Linked DNA regions of Homo sapiens: region 2 is linked to region 1. A link means that fine-mapping ties the variant in region 1 to the expression of a gene that starts in the linked region. Tissue or cell type: whole blood. Region 1 holds a variant in brackets; the other region holds the start of a gene. All regions are shown on one strand. Distances are between the middles of the regions.

Region 1 (5,216 bases):
AGGTAGACTTAATGGATGGGACTACTTTCAAGAACCTTGTGAGGGAGGAGAAAAACCCTCTCCATTATTGTAGACAAACAGATGCTCTCAAGTTGAGCGAGATGAGGGGGCTCAAAAACATGACATGAACAACTCTTTTTCTTTTTCTCAGACAGAGTCTTGCTCTTAATGCCCAGGCTGAAGTGCAGTGACGCCATCCCAGCTCACTGAAACTTGGGCCGCCTGGGTTTAAGCGATCCTCATGCCTCAGCCTCCCAAGTAGCTGGGATTACAGGTGTCCACCATCATGCCCAACTAATTTTTGTATTTTTAGTACAGATGGGGTTTTACCATGTTGGCTAGGCTGGTCTCAAACTCCTGACCTCAGGTGATCCACCCACCTCGGCCTCCCAAAGTGCTGGGATTACAGACACAAGCCACCACCCCCAGCCAAACAACTCTTAAAGTAACTTGAATTGAGAGCTGTTTTCAATCATTGGAACAGCTGCCAATGTGAAGAAAGAAGCAGAGCAACACTAGGGTTTGTTGGAAGATATTTCCAACAAAATTGACCAGCAATGGAATGGGTTCTTTGCAAGGATGATAGAAGCTCTTCAACACTGGAGAGAAGACTGTGATAAGATAATATAATTTGGACTAGAGTTCTTCTACCTTCAATGCTAATTGTTTATCATTTTGACACTAAAGAAGAGATTTATTTGCCAAAAAGTCTCTTCTTGGCATTACCAGGTATGTATAAGAGTAAATTGCCCTGAGATAGAAAAACAAAAGCACAAAGGAGCCTCACAATGGGCCAGCAGATAGGAGTTAGACTGTACAGCATGGACCAGTGCTCCCACTGGGAGGTTGCCTGGCCAACTCAGGCACAGTATCTTAAGAGGCTGTGGTTACCTGGGCCCAAGCTGAGCTGCTGTCAGTATCCAAAAGGTCCAGTCTTGTGATCTGAAGAACAACAACAGGAGACTCTGGACAGCAGAAAAGGTCCATCCCTGATCTGAGTTCAAAATAAGGGTGCAGTTATAGCCAGGAGTAAGCATGCTAATAAGAAACCCAAGCTATGGTCTTTAACTGTTTTAGATTCCATACCCCTTTGAGAGTCCATGAAAGTTATGGCCCCTCTCTGCAGGAAAAAATGCAATTTGCACAAACATACATCATTGTGCCTATAATTGCAAAGACTTCTTTGAACCCCATATAGTCCATTCAAGAAATACAGGTTCAGAACACAACGCACCATCAATACTTTTTACTGATGTTGATGATGATAGATTGGATTTCTTGTATGAACGAGTGCCAAAAGCCTGATAAATGAACACTGAGGTTTTAATCCAGAAAAATTCTAAAGTAGGAAGAAGTCATAACGTATTTGTCCCTCTCCCTAGTACCTTTCTGTCCAATGGAAGAACCTAGAGATTCCAGAGAAGAGGTAAGGATATCTCAAGATAGCTTTTCTGTGCTCCTAAGGGAGACTAGAGTATAGGCTGAACCCCATGACTCACAAGAATAATCCAAAAGGTCAACACACAAAATTATTTTCAATAAACTTCTCATAACCACAGTCAGGTTGACTATTCCCATCCCAAATTTAATTCCTTCTTTAGGTTGGCCCATGTCTGCTGTGCCCAAACAGGTCCAGAGAGAGTACTTGCCCCATTATCTTCTGTTAAAATGTCTTTGCTTGGCATCTAAACCAATTTAATGTTTTTACTTAAAAAGCAGTAGATATGAAGCGTTAGTTATCTATTGCTGCATAACAAATTGCCTCAAAACTTAGCAGCTTAAAACAACAAATATTAATTATTTATTAGTATTTTTATAGGTCAAGAATCTGGGCACAGCTTAGCCAGATGCCTGTACCCCAAAGTCTCTCACAAGGCTATAATCAAGGTGCTGACCACAGCTGTGGTCTGATGTGATGGTTTAACTAAGGGAGGACTGATTTCTAAGCTCCTCACATAGTTGGTAAAATTCAGTTCCTCACAGTTTTCTGGACTGAACACCTCACGTCTTCACTGGCTGTTGGATGGCCAGAGGACTCCTTCAGTTGATTGACACATGGGTCTCTCTATCATGTTGCTCACAATGTGGCAACTAGCTTCCCTCAGAGTTAACAAGCGAGAGAATGAAAAAGAGCAAGCACGATGCAAGCCACAATCTTTCACTTCCTAATCTCAGAAGCGGCATCCCATCCCTTTTGATATATTATATCTATTAGAAATGAGTCATTAACATTCACCTCACACCCCAGGGGAAGGGATTACATGAGGGCATGAGTATCAGGAGGGGAGAATCATGGAGACCCTCTTAGAGATGCCCTATCATATGTGGATTCAAATTCTGGCTCTGCCACTTATAGTAGGACCTCAGACAAGTAACAGTCTCTCAGCCTTGATTTTCTCCTCTATGAAGTTAAAGCAATAATGCGTAATTTGCAGAGTTGTGATGAAAATTAAAGATAATAAATATAACTCCGACAACTCAATTTAAAAATGTCAAAGCACTTGAATAAGCATTTCTCCAAAGAAGATACACAAATGGCCAATAAGCACATGAAAAGATGCTCAACATCATTCGTCATTAGGGAAATGCGGATCAAAGCCAC[G/A]ATGAGATACCACTTCATAACTACTAGGATGACTACTTTTTAAAAAAGGAAATAATAAGGAATAACAAATGTTTGTAAGGATGTGGAAAAAATGGAAATTTGTGCATTGCTGGTGAGGATATAAATTGTATAGCCCTCTGGAAAACAGTTTGGCTATTCCTCAAAACATTAAACATAGAATTACCTTATGACCCCGCAACTGCACTGCTAGGTATATACCAAAAAGAATTGAAAACAAAGACTTAAACAGATACTTATAAGCTAATGTTGATAGCAGCATTATTCACAACAGCCAAAGGTGGTGTGCTATGGTTTGAATGTGTCCCCCAAAGTTCATGTGTTAGAAACTTAATCCCCAGTGCAACAATGTTGAGAGGTGGGATATTTAAGAGATGATTAGGTCATGGGGCTCAGACTTTATGAATGAATTAATGCTGTTTTGCAGAGTGAATTATCTGGAGAGTGGGTTACTGAAAAAAGAATTAAGCCCTCTTTCTCTCTCTAAGTGAAATAAATCAGACACAAAAGGACAAATATTGCATGATTTCAATTATATGAAATATCTAGAATAGACAAATTCACAGAGATTGAAAGTATATTAGAGGTTACCATGGAATGGGAGAAGGGAATAATGGGGAGTTATTGCTTAATGGACACAGAATTTCTCTTTGAGATGATGAAATGATTTTTGGAAATTGTGATGGTTATATAAGATGGTGAATGTAATTAATGCCATTGAATTGTACACTTTAAAATGATGAAAATGGCAAATTTTAAATTATATATGTTTTACTACAATTTTTAAAAATTACGAATATAGCAGGTGCTTGACAAACAATCATACCATCAGCAGAAACCCATGAAGGCAATCGTTTGAATGCCTTGAACTGTGTGGCCTTGCCAGATATGAGATGTTAAAGAGATTGTGGAGAGGATGAGGGAGGTCAAATTTTCTTCCACCAATAGCTTCTTCCTTGGTTGACATTTCTAGGATACCACATTTTCCATAAATACCTAGCTCTAATCTGAGAAGGAATAGGGGAGAGATTACTATATTTCCTGTGATAGTTTGGGGGATATACGCTCATAGTTTCAGGTAAAACTTACACAAAAGCAAATTTTGCCCTTTTAGATCATCTACTTTTCACCTTAGTTGCCCTCAAGATTTGATGTGATTTCACAACGTGTTTTAAAATTGCTCAGCTGTTCTTCTATAATGGCTACTTACCTATGGCACTCTAGACCAGTGGCTCTGGCCTTGAAGCCAAGTACCCTGGAGCTTGGATCTCAGCTCTGAAGCTTCCTGAGAGAGTGATTTGAGCTGGTCAACCTCTCTATACTTCCATTTCTTCTCTGTGAAAGGAAGATAACAATGCCTGGTTCATATGATATTGTAAGGTATGAATGAAATAATGCATATAAAGGATTTAGAAGTGGCCTGGTACATGTCACAGTGAGAAATAAATGGCAGCTAATATGATTTCAGAGCTCTATCAATCACTTACCAAACCTTTTAAATATCTGTCTGTGGAACTTTAAATGAGGGAAGAATTATTTAACTTTAGTTTCTAAGTATCTGATGAATAAAATAGATCATTTCCCATTTCTTCATTCAAACATTAATGAATGCTTCCTGTGTGAATGCCATTCTACTTATGCAGTCTTGCTTCATTCGTATGATAAAGTGAGGGCAGAATTGGGAGGTGTAAACTGGATAATAGCCATGATTGAAGTCACTGTGAGAACTAGATGAAATTCCTAGAGCAATTAAAATCTTCCAGATTCATTCTAGTGTCCAGTTCACCTTACATTACAAATAGTTTTGAAAAGCCAGTAAGACTGTGCCAATATCTTTAAATAGAGCACACTGATTCCTGAGAATAAAGAAAGAAGCATTGTCATGACTAAGGACTTACGAAGACCAAGACTGTTCTTTCACTCCTGGGTAGGAAATAAGACTCATTTGTGTGCTGTTTAGGACAATCTGTTTGTGCTGTTTCGGATAAGCTAGACTAGAAGGCAAAGGAACACCTGTTCAAATTTTGTGACAAATGAACAGGTAGCCTTTTCTTTAAGATTATAAAGAAATAGCAAAAGAAAGTTGCTAAGTTGAACATATGAACTCACCTAGGTTCTGAGGGCCTGCCATGAGCCTTTCCATCTTAGTTCAGATTTCTCCCACAGGGATAATTTGAAATTATTTTAAAACAGCTATTGTGGTAGCCAGTTTCATGTGCTGATTATTTCATGTTAACTGATTGTAATCAAATCATTGCTTTTCTTTTAAAATATTCTAATACACTATCCATGATTCCTCCCACCAAAATATTCTGAATTAAAGACCATTTGACAATATTTACCCTAACTTTTTAATTTCTTCTCCTCAGAATGCAAAATATGCCTTCTCATACCATAGAGAAAACTCTCTTCTAATTCATTCATGCAATGAATTCAATAAATATTTGTTTATACAACATATAGCTATTGAGTGCCAAGGGGAAAGCAGTGATATATTCTCCCTCCACCCCTCTTAATAAGTATAGAGGTAAAAATAATAAAGGAGGAATGATCATCAAGCTCCCACTTGAATGATTCCAGTGATAGGCAACTCACT
Region 2 (5,123 bases), 86 kb before region 1:
CATTTGGGAAACTTGGAAGTACCACACAAATGTAAATTACTGTACAATTAAACTTAGCACAGGCTATGTTTTTAACCAGCTCTACTCTTTATACACTTAGGGGTTAATTCTAATTTGCACAATTATACTAAACCAATAAATGGGAACTTTTGCATATGACCTCATCAACTGGTCTTCCTAGGAAATATAGGTAAGATGTGCTTCTTACATAAGAACAGTGGTTCTCAGTATTGGCTGCCCATTAGAATCACCTGGAAATGCTTTTAGACCTTACCCTTGTTTAGCTCTGCTATTAGGGATTCTGATTGAATTGGTCTGGGTGAGGCCTCGGCATCAGTATGATTTAAAATCTCCTCAGGTGATTCAAATGTGATCCCGAATTGAGAAGCCCTGCTGTGCAGTGTTTCAGGATTGCATTTTCTATGCTAGAGGGAGAGGTTTATCCACCAACTTGCTCCAGCAGGAATACCTGAGCTTTCTAGGACCTCCAGGAAGATTCTCCCAGTGTACGTCCCATCAGGGTAGGTGTGATAGATGCAGAAGTACTCCCCTGTATCGTTCACGGTCAGCGACTGGAGGGTGAGGCCCAGGCCGGGACCTGGGGCCACTCGATCCTTGAAGGATGGGGAGATGTGCCACCCCAAGTCAGCATTACAAATGGCCAGAAGCTGGTCCTGCTGCTCCCAGTTGACCTGGGTCACTTGTGCCGTGGTGGAGGAGAGGTGACATTGTAAGATGATAGAGCCACCTTTCTCTGCAGAAATGTTCCCCGTTGTTTCTATTGTGCCTGTCATCATTCCTAGGGAAGAGGACGAAGCACATGTGAGTCCTGGGTCAGCAGCTGGCCTTCAACCTTCCTAGAAAAATTCTAAGGGCCTTTGAGGCCCCAACTGGATTTTGGAATGATAGTTTCTCCAGTCCATCCTGTTGCTCCTCCATAGAGGCTGTAATTATTTCCTGTTTCTTCCATTTCAAGAGACGCTCCTCTCCATGCCTGTTATTCAAGGCTCCCAGTCCCCCATTCAGGTTGTCTTTCCAGTCTTCTCACCCTTCTCCACACATCTCTACTCCAGCCCAGCCCAGCCCATCTCCTCCCCACCCACTGCCCTATGCTTCCAGAGCTGACTTCTGCCCCTCTTTACACCTCGCCCACAGGGAGGCTTGTCAAGGCTGCACTCCCTCCCCGCCTCCTAGAAGACCTCAGCCCATCTCAACCTCCCTTTTCCTTTCACATTCACTGCCTGTATTGTATAATTAGCACCTTACTAAATGCCTGGCTTATGACTACACAACTTAGCACGTTGCCCCCTCGCATATTCTGCTATGTAGCTTCATGGCCAGCTTGTTATTTTCGTAGGCCTATTTTGTCTACCCACTTAGAATATAAGCCCTTGTCAGCTGATACCACCTCTTCTGTTTTTATTTTGTTTTGTTTTTATGTTTCTTCCTGCGGCCTAGTTCTATGCTGGATGCATTATCCTTTGAAATAAAACCTTGCTGTTTGGTTGATTGTCATTTGCAGTGCCTGAAAAAACCTTCAGGAAAGCCAAGAAATCCAATAGCAAAGGAAGCTTAGCAGGAAACCCTGCTTCTCCCAGGCATAACCACCCTCTCAGCACTTAACCTCTCCCCAGCAACCCTGGGCACATCTCCATCCTCAGATAGTTCAGAAGGCAACATAAAAACTAATTTATACCACAGTTTTTAAATATTTGTGTTCCCCTCCCTCAGAAATATTTGACTCTGATTTTTAATATAGAAGAAATAAATTTAACAAAAAATCAGTCTCTAGTGGTAGAACCTCTGGAATCTGTGAAAAAGACATTTTCAATTCACAGAGAACTTATAATGTTTTCCTGGAAAGTTCCTGAAAGGCAACAGAAAAGAAGCTGGAGCAGGAATGAGCTTCTAAAAGCAAACTGGCAATGCCTCCTGCCCAGCCCTTCTTCTTCTCCTGCTCCTTCTTGTGCTGGCCAGTCAGGCTCCTCCAACCCCGGAAGTCTGCAAAGTCCTTCATCTGCCACCAAAAACAGAACCCCACCTCATTCTCAGAGATTGTCCTTTCTTAAATAAGAGTACACAGGACTCTAAAAGTTGCAATTTCTTTCTCTCAAGCAGCTGTGGCATGCTCTTGGAGTCTTCCCTACACAAGCACCCAAGTCTCCAACCAAGCTTAGCCTTGTTTTTCCTCCCTGCTGCTCTGCTGGGTTTCAGGCCTTACCTGAGGCGAGGGGAGCCTGCCTCAGCCCCTGGGCCCAGATCAGGAGGAGACACCAGCGCATGCTTCTGCCCAGAGGGCCTACAGGAAGCAGATGTGGCCTCTTCTGCCACTGAAAGTAGCCGACTGCAGATAGGACGGTAAAACTGAGCCTCTGAGAAAAGACGGTCTCGGAAAAACCAAGTTTGGCAAAAACCATATTAAAAACACATAAAGTTGTCAACAAATACACAAACTGCATAGGGTGAGCCACAAGAAAGGCCATGAAGGAAACATTTAAAAATAAATGAAAATTGTGGTTAGAGGTACACTCGTCTTTGGATTATAGTCAATCTATTGTTTTTAAGTTCTGTCTTAATGTTTTTTCTAAAAATCAGCCTTTATTCAAAGAGCTCAAGGGCATCTGTGTAGTGCCCAAGATTCTGAAGAATCTGCTACTGATGAGGAACTGTTGGCTGAGCTCCTCTGGCATCCTCCTGATGAAGAATGTGCAATGATAAGAGAAGCTTATCATTGTAGGGACTTACAGGCCAGGGACTGCACTTGAAATCTAATGAACAGGTGAACAAGAAGTGTTTACTTGGGGGATGATACATGGATGGGACAAAGGTCTTGGACAAACACAGCAACTTTCCCTTGAAGGAGATCTTCTACTCGAATCTTATTTCTTTTGTCTTGTTTATCTGGACTGAGACTTTATTGAATTCTGGCTTGATTTCTCTGGTGCAGTAGGATCAGAGGAGATTAGAGGAGAGAGCTTTCCTGTGCACAATGACCTCATGAGAGCTGGAAATGCAAAGAAGGGTGAGCCCCTGGGAGCTGACCCAGGAGAGGGATTGGTTGACATTTGCCTGGAGCTCCCAGCCCATCACCAGGTCCTACTATGGACCCATCCTTCTTTCCTCCCTCCCTCCCTTCATTCATTTGAAAGTCCCTGGGTGCCTACAAAGCACCAACCTCAACACCAGGCTCTGAGGATATGAGAGTAAATAATCACAGCCCCTACCCTCAAATAGTTTACAAAGCTTGTTCCTTGGTGAACTCAGTCAGGAGAGGGGGTAGAAGATCCACATTCACCTGCCTCGCAGGCTCTCAACACAGTTGCCTTGGGGATGCTCCATGTTGTACATCCTGAAAATCTGCATCTGCACCCAGAAGCATCTGAAGCCTGGTGCCCCACCCCCTCCATTCCAGCCATGCACCTCTAGCATTTCACACCATCCAGGCTCCTACCCTCCTTCTCCCTTGCAAGGTCTTCTATCTCAGGCCAGTTTTCTCCCCTCTCTGGGTTCTGCCTATCCCCAACTCTATGACTTGTATACCCCTTATACCCCACCTCCAGACCCTTAGACAATATACGCCTTACCAGCTTCTCTCTGCCTACCCAAAGCAACCTGTCCTTCAAGGCTCACATCAAGAGATGCCTTGCCTTTCAATAGCTACAAAGCCTTCAGCTGAAGGAGAAATAATACCTAATGTGTGTCCAAGGGAAGGTGCCAAGGTTGAACTGGAGGGATGTTTCCCAAACTCACTAAGGCCGGGGAGCCAGGAGTGGCAGGGCCAAGAGCAGCTAGTGGGACTAGAGCACAGAAAGTGGTGGACACTAGGATTTGGGCTATAAAAATTTACAGCCTGTGTTTCCATAGTTGAGCTGGGTGGGAGCCAAAGAGGTGAGACCTCTCTTATATAATGAGATATCCAGAGAAACTTAGAGGTGGTTTTAAACAATTGTTAAATAATTTTTCTGTTTTTTGCTAAGTAACCAGTCCAAAGAGGAATATGGTCAAGTCCATTTTGATCAATGGTGCTCTAGAGGGGGATGATTAACAGACTGGGTCCAAAGTCATCCTGTTTGGTGACCTTGGAAAACTTTCTCAACCTCCTGAAGGCTCAGTTTCCCCATGTGCATATAGGAATAAGAGTACCTCTTTCATAGGGTTGTGAGGATTTAATTCTCTAGTGTTTGGTGAAGTGTTCAGCACAGTGCCTGGAAGATGGCAGGAGTTCAATACATCAACAGTAGTATTGATAACAATATTAATTAAGGAAGTGAAAGGAAAATTGGAGGACAATATCCCTATCTATATAATGTGCTTTGTCAAGAGTAAAATCCTAGTCTCCAGACTCCAAGGCCAGGGTTCCACCCAACCTCTTCATTCTGCCCTCCTTATCTGATAGAACAGGAGGATAGCATGTTTCTGCAGGAAAGTGACCACTTGCCAGCTAGACCCTGAGGCTGCCTTGGAGGAAAGCAAATGACAGAAGTCTCTCCCCAGGGAATCTACCCCAGACCCTCCAGAGCCTCCTGCACAGACTCCACGGGGAACCTGGCTGGTTCCCACCCACTCAACACCAGCCCCCAGCACTGAGCGGCTCAGCTGTGAGAAGCAGGCCTGCTCTGAGAGCTCCCCGGGCCACCCTGAGCTTTTAAGGCCAGTCAGCAGCCCTCGTGGCATAGCAGGGATCTGTGAGGTCCATCAGGTGCTGACTCACATTTCTATTTTAAAAATGCTAAAATCAGCCACTGTGCTTTATTCTGCCCTGACTTTTGGGGCTGTGAGTTGGACAAGTCTGGTCCGCCTTGATGCAGCTGGGTGAGTACAGGTGCTGAAAAAGAATGTCACGTTTGCCCGTGAAAGGGGAAGAAGTGCTGGCCTAGACTGTAAAACCCCCTTATCAGTTCACAGCTGGGCCTTCCCCTAGCCCGCCCTGCGCCCTGTGAAAGTCCCGGGCCAGCCGCACTTGAGTCCACAGCCTCCAACCACAAGCACGGTCCTGAAAACCTGTGGCCCGCAGCCCTCAGCCAAGCGGGGCTGGGAGTGGTGGTACCTTCCACAAGATCGGTGGCTTGTACACGGGAAACACAACCTAGGGTTCTCCCAGAGCACAGACCAATCTCCCAGCA

Evidence for each region. PIP is the estimated chance that this variant, and not a neighbour inherited with it, causes the effect.
Region 2: TIGIT starts here. The variant in region 1 is fine-mapped to the expression of TIGIT in whole blood (INTERVAL, PIP 0.96).

The regions. Positions count from the first base shown.
Region 1 is chr3:114,204,853-114,210,068 of GRCh38, reverse strand. No RefSeq gene overlaps it. Among named protein-coding and RNA genes, the nearest start is that of DRD3, 28 kb to the right of the region's middle. The variant G/A (reference allele first, on the strand shown) is at 2,603.
Region 2 is chr3:114,291,221-114,296,343 of GRCh38, reverse strand. TIGIT (T cell immunoreceptor with Ig and ITIM domains) reads right to left here and starts at 2,316. Exons shown (of 4, transcript NM_173799.4): 1 at 2,222-2,316; 2 at 470-799. The coding sequence starts at 2,282. RefSeq lists enhancers at 4,118-5,060, 4,958-5,123, 5,061-5,123.